Homo sapiens: one gene and its partner. The protein of the gene in region 2 purifies or fractionates together with the protein of the main gene of each other region. This does not show direct contact. Each region holds a gene or a part of one and is shown on either strand. Other genes may lie near its edges. The genes, in order: PARVA and PLS1.

Evidence for each region.
Region 1: the proteins of PLS1 (region 2) and PARVA fractionate together in Homo sapiens (co-fractionation; one large-scale study listed by BioGRID). This does not show direct contact.

Annotation. Positions count from the first base shown.
Region 1 is NC_000011.10:12,516,833-12,520,649, reverse strand, and holds part of PARVA (alpha-parvin), read right to left. Parts: intron 3,041-3,817; coding exon 2,939-3,040; intron 2,206-2,938; coding exon 2,133-2,205; intron 1-2,132. UniProt on the Homo sapiens protein: Plays a role in sarcomere organization and in smooth muscle cell contraction. Required for normal development of the embryonic cardiovascular system, and for normal septation of the heart outflow tract.
Region 2 is NC_000003.12:142,602,657-142,606,473, reverse strand, and holds part of PLS1 (plastin-1), read right to left. Parts: intron 1-3,817. UniProt on the Homo sapiens protein: Actin-bundling protein. In the inner ear, it is required for stereocilia formation. Mediates liquid packing of actin filaments that is necessary for stereocilia to grow to their proper dimensions.

The DNA of each region.
Region 1 (3,817 bases), on a different chromosome or scaffold from region 2:
CTGGTTAGGAACTTGATGCTAACCCTTGGCTTACACTAACTCAGGCACTAAACGGTCATGAAGCCTGGGCAGCAAGTCATCTCAGATACAAACCCAGTTTCTAGGGGATTTCAAGGCACAACAGAGCTTTGAGTGTTAAACAGCACAGCAGAGAATGCATTTTCCTGACCTTAAAAACATGTTGCCATGAAAAATGCCTCCACCACAACCAGTTTGATTTTGAAATGCCCTCAAAGAATTACCCACATTGGCACCCTTTGAAATGTCTGCATCATTTACTTCCAAATCTCACTTTCCAGGTAGAAGCATAAAAACCAGACGGAATGCTGGGATTCACTTCTTTCAAAGTACAATTTCATAAAATGCTATTTCCATTCCCCTTTACGTACTGGAAATTTGCAGCATGGGCATAATGCCCTGTGTCATAACAAATAAAACACGTGTTTTTCCATCCACATCAGTCTGTTAGTTTCACATTCAGCAACTTAATAATTGCATAAAAATATCACCTATATTCCAAAATATTCCCATAGATTGATTTATATTGGGAAAATTATCTGTCCCAAGGGAAAGAAATATCCCAATTCTAAAATAGCAGAAGTACTTCCAATCTGTAACCAGGAAGTTTCATATTAAGTGGTTGAAGAAAGTGGAAGCAAAATGATGGTCGGAACTTTCTCACTGTGTCTGTCCTCCCAGAAGCAGGGTGCTCATCATCTGCCCACAGAACAAGAAGAGTCCATTCCTAATGGCATTAGGAAGGCTGGAGTGGCCTTGCCAAAGAGAGAGCCCCAGGGGGACACCAGCCTTGCTAGAGGTCCTCCCCCAGGTCTCAGTTGACCAGGGGCTTAGGACAAGGTGGTAATAAATGAGAACAGGAGTTGACCTTTGTTGGCTAGAGTCAATAGATAACGAGTCTGGAAGGAGTCATGAGACAGGGTCCCCATTCTTCCCCGGGGGGACTTTTGCTCATGCTGTCATTCTGTCTGGCATGCACACACTTCTCTCCCAGTCTCCATACACCAAAGCCCTACCTGGTCCTTATGGTTGAGCCCCACTGTCTCCATCAAACTGTTCCTCCCCCAAGACAGAAGTGGTATCACCTCCTCAGTCCTCACAGACTCTTCCTTGTACCTCTTTCGTAACAGTTCCCATGACTGTCATTTCATTTTGCTAACTGGCTCCAACTTTTCTCTTCCCTGGTTGGCTACACGTGCCTTGAGGTTCAGGAAGGTCTTACCCCTCTTGTTATATCATGGTCTACAGGGTCTCAAGCCCACTAGACCAGGGCATGGCCCCCACTAGGTGGGGGTTTGGATAGAGGAGCTCAGAGCAGAGGCAGGAAGGGGGCATGAGAGCCCACCATTCCTACTCATCCACTTGCCTATAAACTACCAGAAAAGTGCGAGCAAAAGGGCCACAGATGGCATTCTCAGTGTTCCCAGGGGACATATGCAGGAGATTATCTGCAACACAGTGGTGACCTGCCAGCTCTGGTGAAATGGAATACTTCAGTCAGTAAGGGGCAGAAAGCAATCATCCGTACCAAGACTACTAAGAGAAGCGTGCCTCCTCTGCTCACGAATGCACGTGTGCACTCCTAGCAGGAGTATGCAGGGGCTGCAGAAGCACTTGTCCCTTCTGCATTTCCCCTCAGACTTATATTTACAACCCAAACCCCACAAATCATGGCCTGTCCTCAGACAGAGTCTGAGCAGGCAGAGCTCCGCATCTGTAAGGAGAGAAGCAGTTTTGCTCAGCCCAGAACTGTCTGCGCTGCACCTTCACCCCGACTGGCGGGGACACAGCTCTTTGGCAGGTCAGCACCCTGTGCAGGGACAGGAAAACCTGGAAATTGGGCACAGGGCAGTTCCTGCAGCAGCAGTTCTGCTCGGTCCCTGATCCCCGCGATCCCACGCATGGCATGTGTGGGATTTCAGATTCTTTTCTTCCCCTGGCTGTGCAGCTGGCAGCTCACAAAGGGTCTCTGGGACTGAGCAGCTGCACCGAGTCCCACCTTCCCCAGCAACGAAGGCTTCAGAAAATGCTTCCCTCTGCTACAAAATCTGAGTACTCATGTGCAGGGAGAGGGTCTCACTCTGTTGTCACAAACCCAGGAAAGAGCAAAGTACCTTCTGGCCGCGGTTTTGGCTTTTCCAACCCTCCATCTTGCATGAGCTCAAAGGCAAAGGAGACATTCAAGACCTGGCAAGAGAGATGCAGACAGCATGTACCATTGCACACCCAGGAGCCCCAGGACCTGGCCCTGGGAAGTGAAGGAGCCCAGCACTGTAGCCAGAGGGACAGAGGCTGAACTAATTTCAAGGAGAAATATGGCTACCAAAATGGGCAGGCCACCTGGAGCGTGAGCTAGCTGATCCTAGCTTGCTGTTGGGAGAAGCACTCCTGGAGAAGCACAAAACTCCCTTCATATCCTACTGTGTTCCTGTGTAAACTGCCAGGACTTCAAATTGGGGGTGTCAGTGCACACGTCTGGAAGAATCAGATGGCAGGACATGTTCAACAGGCAGAGCAGGCTTTCTGGTCAAATGCCTTTGTGTAGCGAGCAGGATGTGGCAGCCTACGAGAGGCCATCAGAACCAGGCTAAGCATGAGCCTCAGGGCTGACCAGCTTCACAGTCACTTTCCTTGTCATCTCTGGGGAGAGAGGAGGCTGGGCTGGGGCACTTGACAGGGACACAGGGCAGGGGACCCGGGCCAGGCTTCAGGGCAAGGGAAAGGCAGTCAGGGATGCCCAGTGGTCTGCAGGTAGCTCCTTCCCAGCTCAGCTCTTATAATGGGTCCCACCTCCAGGCACTGAAGACGTTGAGCAGAGGGGAAGCTTCTGCCTTTTTTCTGGATAGCCCCAGCATGGGTGTGGGCACATGAGTCAGGGGATGTGGGCTAGGGGGCCTCCCTTGATGTCCCTTCTCCTTACCTTCTGTTCAAAGCTGTCCGGGGTCAGGAAGAAGCTGTGCAGGGGCACAAAGTAGCCCTCCAGGAGCCCCATGAGCAGCACCAGGTACACCCCATCTGCAAACTGGAGGAAGAGCCAGGTGATGGCACTGGCCCCTGAGCCTCCCAGCCAATCCCCATCCAGGGGGCCCATCAACTTCTGTGCTATGCCACCTGAAGCCTACCACCCCAGCCAGGCTGCTAGCTCGGGGGTAGGGGCAGTGGCCCGAGACAAGGAGGTCTGCTCTGCCCCACGTCTGGCTGGCACAGGAGCCACAAGCCCAGGCCCTGATCTCAGCTGACCCAGCATTTACTGAACAGAGGCTGTGTACCAACTCCTGGTCTAGGCATGGGGACCAGAGCATGGTGGGGGGTGGGGGGTGGGGGGTGGTCAGTGTGGCTCCTGCCCTGGAGGAGTACACAGTCTAATAGGGAAACTGGTGTGGGGGCAAGGCACAGCTGCTCTGATGGAAGGAAGCTCGCTGGCCTGAGTGAGGTTGAGAAAGGTCGCCCACAAGCACTGAAGGCATCAGAGGAGTCTTCTGGAGGGGACAGAGCCTGAGTGGAGAGCTGAGGATGAGCAGGATTGGCTAGAGTGGGACAGAGGGAGGAGGGGGAGGTGATGTCCAAGGTGAATGGCATGAGGTTCCTGGGGAGATCTGTGCTTTCTGAACAGAGAAAGGACTAGTGTCACACAGGGCTGGGCATTCTTTCTCCCATCTCTCTTCAGTATTACAGCAGCAGAGTGCAGCTGTTATGAATGTGGGCTCTGGGGCCAGGCCTCCCAGGTGCAAATTCCAGCTCTCTCACCTACTAGCTATATGCCTTGGGCAAGTTATGTCACTTCTCTGTACTCATATGT
Region 2 (3,817 bases):
GTAATAAAACTGTTATTTTAAAAACAATGTCATGTGTGCCAAGAATACTGATGAAACATCATTTAATCCTATTCAAAGTGAAGATTTTGACAACGTGTGGTTGATATGAAACCTTTAATTTCTCTGAGAAGTCCCGCTGCTTGCTTTAGTAATACCCTTAATGCCTCAGGACATAACATACTCAAAAAAAAACTGTGCATAAAGAAGTTCTAAATGAATCTTGGTATCCTTTCTAGATTAAATGAGCAACATGCACATCACAAGGTCTTCCTTAAGTGTGCCTGAGATGTGAAATAGCATGCAGACTATTCCCACTGATATTTAATAATACATTAACATGCAAAAATGGGTATCATTGTGTACCCTTTTGTACAATGTTTCAGGATTCAGTTATTTCCTCTGAATTACTAGAAAATTACAATGTTTTGGGTTCTCCCATTATTTATTGTCCTAGTGGTATGAGAAATGCTTATAGTAACCTTGCAGAAATACTTCAATTAAGGCTTAGTCTCCCACAGAACAATATATATCACATAGGGAGAATATAACTTTGTAAAATATTTAGAAAGTTTAATCTTTTATCCTACACATTCCAGATGTACATTAGCAGGAAGTATAAGTTTTAAAACAAAACTACTTTGTTCAAGATGAAAGAGATGGATATTTTCCCATGTTAATCAACTCTTATTTCAAGAACTCATTTTAATGTTAATATGCTCCATAGTTGAGGGTTAGCCATAAAATACATTTAGACTTTTATAAAAATTGCACATAAATTTCATAGAGGAATTATTTCATATGGTCAGTAACAGAAGAAAATATGAATTGACTGCAAGAGCACTAGATTTGGAGCTAGACTGAAGTCCCATGAGGTCAGGAGTTCGAGATCAGCCTGGACAACATGGAGAAACCATGTCTCTACTAGAAATACAAAAATTAGCTGGGCATGGTGGCACATGCCTGTAACCCCAGCTACTGGGGAGGATGAAGCAGGAGAATCACTTGAACCCGGGAGGCGAAAGGTTGCAGTGAGCCAAGATTGTGCCCCTCACTCCAGCCTGAGCAACGGAGCAAGACTCTGTCTCAAAAAAATTAACCCTGACATTTTTTCAAATGTTGAAATTATAAGACACAGTTATGAGTTTAATTTCTGGCAGTTTCAAATCAGGCAACCTCCAGCAGGCAAGTCATTCTCTAAGTCTTGGCCACTTATCAGTGAAAGGAAGTAAAATCAGAAAGCTTTTTTAAACATCAATAAATGCCTTTCCTCTATCTTGTAGTTGACTAGTTACTTTCACATCCACTATCTTGTTTAATTATCAAACCTACAGCTGAAGAGAAGGCCTTCCTTCTCATGGGGTCAGAAACAGAATCACAGACTTTGACTTCTCATCCATGGTTCTGATCATAGGCCAACTGGTTTCAGGTATCTAAACTTTAAATTGCCCTAAGACTCATTTTAATTGACCACTAAACATTCAGAGATTTTCAGATTTCCTTTTTCCACTGATAATAATCTTGAATTTTTTTTTTTTTTTGAGACGGAGTCTTGCTCTGCTGCCCAGGCTGGAGATGCAGTGCCGTGATCTCAGCTCACTGCAAGCTCTGCCTCCCGGGTTCACGCCATTCTCCTGCCTCAGTCTCCTGAGTAGCTGGGACTACAGGCACCCACCACCACGCCTGGCTAATTATTTGTATTTTTTAGTAGAGACGGGGTTTCACCATGTTAGCCAGGATGGTCTCAATATCCTGACCTCGTGATCCGCCTGCCTCGGCCTCCCAAAGTGCTGGGATTACAGGCGTGAGCCACTGCACCTGGCCAATAATCTTGAATTTAATTTGGCTATTTGAGGATAAGAAAGGGATCAAGCAAATTGCTATTATTGTTGTTTTTCCAAAATCAACTCACTTCCATGACAACTTCTGATGAAAAACATTGGGTTTTGGTGAGCTGTGTTTCACAGATGGCACCTCACTGACCTGATTAACACTTAAAATTCCAATAACTAGGTCACTCTTAGAAACATTTCCTTGACCAAAAGGATGTCCCAATGATCTTAAACCTGGGGAGAGGGGAAGGAAAAGGGAGACCGCCAGGAAAGAATTCAGAGTGCTCTCCAGGAAGAGACAGCAGGAGTCTTTGAGAGGTTTTGGTTTATTTACAAAGATTATAAATACTAACTTGATATCAACCTAGAGATTCTACTTGTCTAAACCTTTCCCCCTCTTTTATTCATTCCAAGCAGCCCTTGGTCCAAGGTGTAATTAACAAGACCGATCCTTCCACACACATTTACCAGTGTCTTAAATTCAAATCCAAATTCTATTTTGGCAGTACTGCTAAAATCTCTTATTTCTTAGTTCTCAAAAAAATTGAAGGAGCTTTTGTCATTTTTTTAATATAAACATCTTCTTTCTTGAAACTGGATCTATAAACAATTTAATGTATTGTGTTCCTCAATAATAGAGTAAATCTGATTTCTGCTAATATTTTGGGTCAGTGACACCCCAAAACCTTTTGCTTTTTATCATGAAGAAGCCCCTCAGACACCTTCTACCTTACTAATGTCTCCATCCAATTTACTATCAAGAAAAGACAGTTTCTCCTTTTTTTTTGTGGTCAGCTTGGATCTTTTGAAGGAGGCATGTCTGTGTGCAGTGAGTTATCACCCAGATGTTCTTGTAGGTATTTTTTTTTTTTTTTGAGGCAGGGTTTCACTTTGTCACCCAGGCTAAAGTGCAGTGGCACAATCTCAGGTCACTGCAGCCTCAATCTCCTGGGCTCAAAATGATCCTCCCACCTCAGCCTAAGTAACTGGGACTACAGGCACGCGCCACCATGCCCAGATAATTTTTTTGTAGAGACGATGTTTTGCCATGTTGCCCAGGCTGGTGTTGAACTCTTGAGCTCAAGCGATCCACCTGCCTCAGCCTCCCAAAGTGCTGGGATTATAGGCGTGAGCCACCATGCCCAGCCAGTCTCGTAGTTTTATAGCTGTGAATTGCTCACAAAAGTCAATCATAAAATTTAGTTTATCGTAAAGTCTGAAGTCCCTTCACCACTGGACTTTATGAACAAAGCTATGTCTAACTCTGCTAGGAAATATTTTCTGATGAAACAAGTGTTTTAAGTAAGAAAAAACTCTCCCAATCATCTAACTCCTCACCCTTTCTGTGCCCACAATATTACTATAATAAAAAGCAACGTGCCTTTACAGAAGCCATGCTACATATGTCTCACCAAAAACGGCACATAGGCACTTTCAGACACAGTGCTAAAAAGAAATCAGATGATCAAAGTTGAACAGCCTCACATCTCATGTGACCTTACATGTCAGCAAAGTTTCCAGCAATCAAAATTGTATAACCATTTTATAACCAATAAACCCGTATGCAGCACAAATGTCTCTTTCTCCCCGACGTTCATCATCAGCCAGAGTAAAATGTTAATTCGGAACTGGATGAAGTGACAAGCTTTTGAATGTTGAGAGAATGAGGGCCAGAGGTGGCCTCAGCCTCAACACTTTGGGAGGCTGAGGCGGGCGAGTCACTTGAGGTCAGGAGTTGGCGACCAGCCTGGCCAACATGGTGAAACCCCGACTCTACTAAAAATACAAAAATTAGCCCGGTGAAGCCAGAAGCTGCGGCCCTGCCTTTCATATCCTGGGAACACAGAACCACTCAGGGGAAGGTAAAGCAGAACCAGGAAATGGAAAGAGAGCTCAGGCAGCAAGGGAGGGAAGCACGCTCTCAGCTGAGTTCCATTTTGAGACTCCCAGGAGAGTAAGTTCTCTATGTAATTAGGTTCATCAAGAGG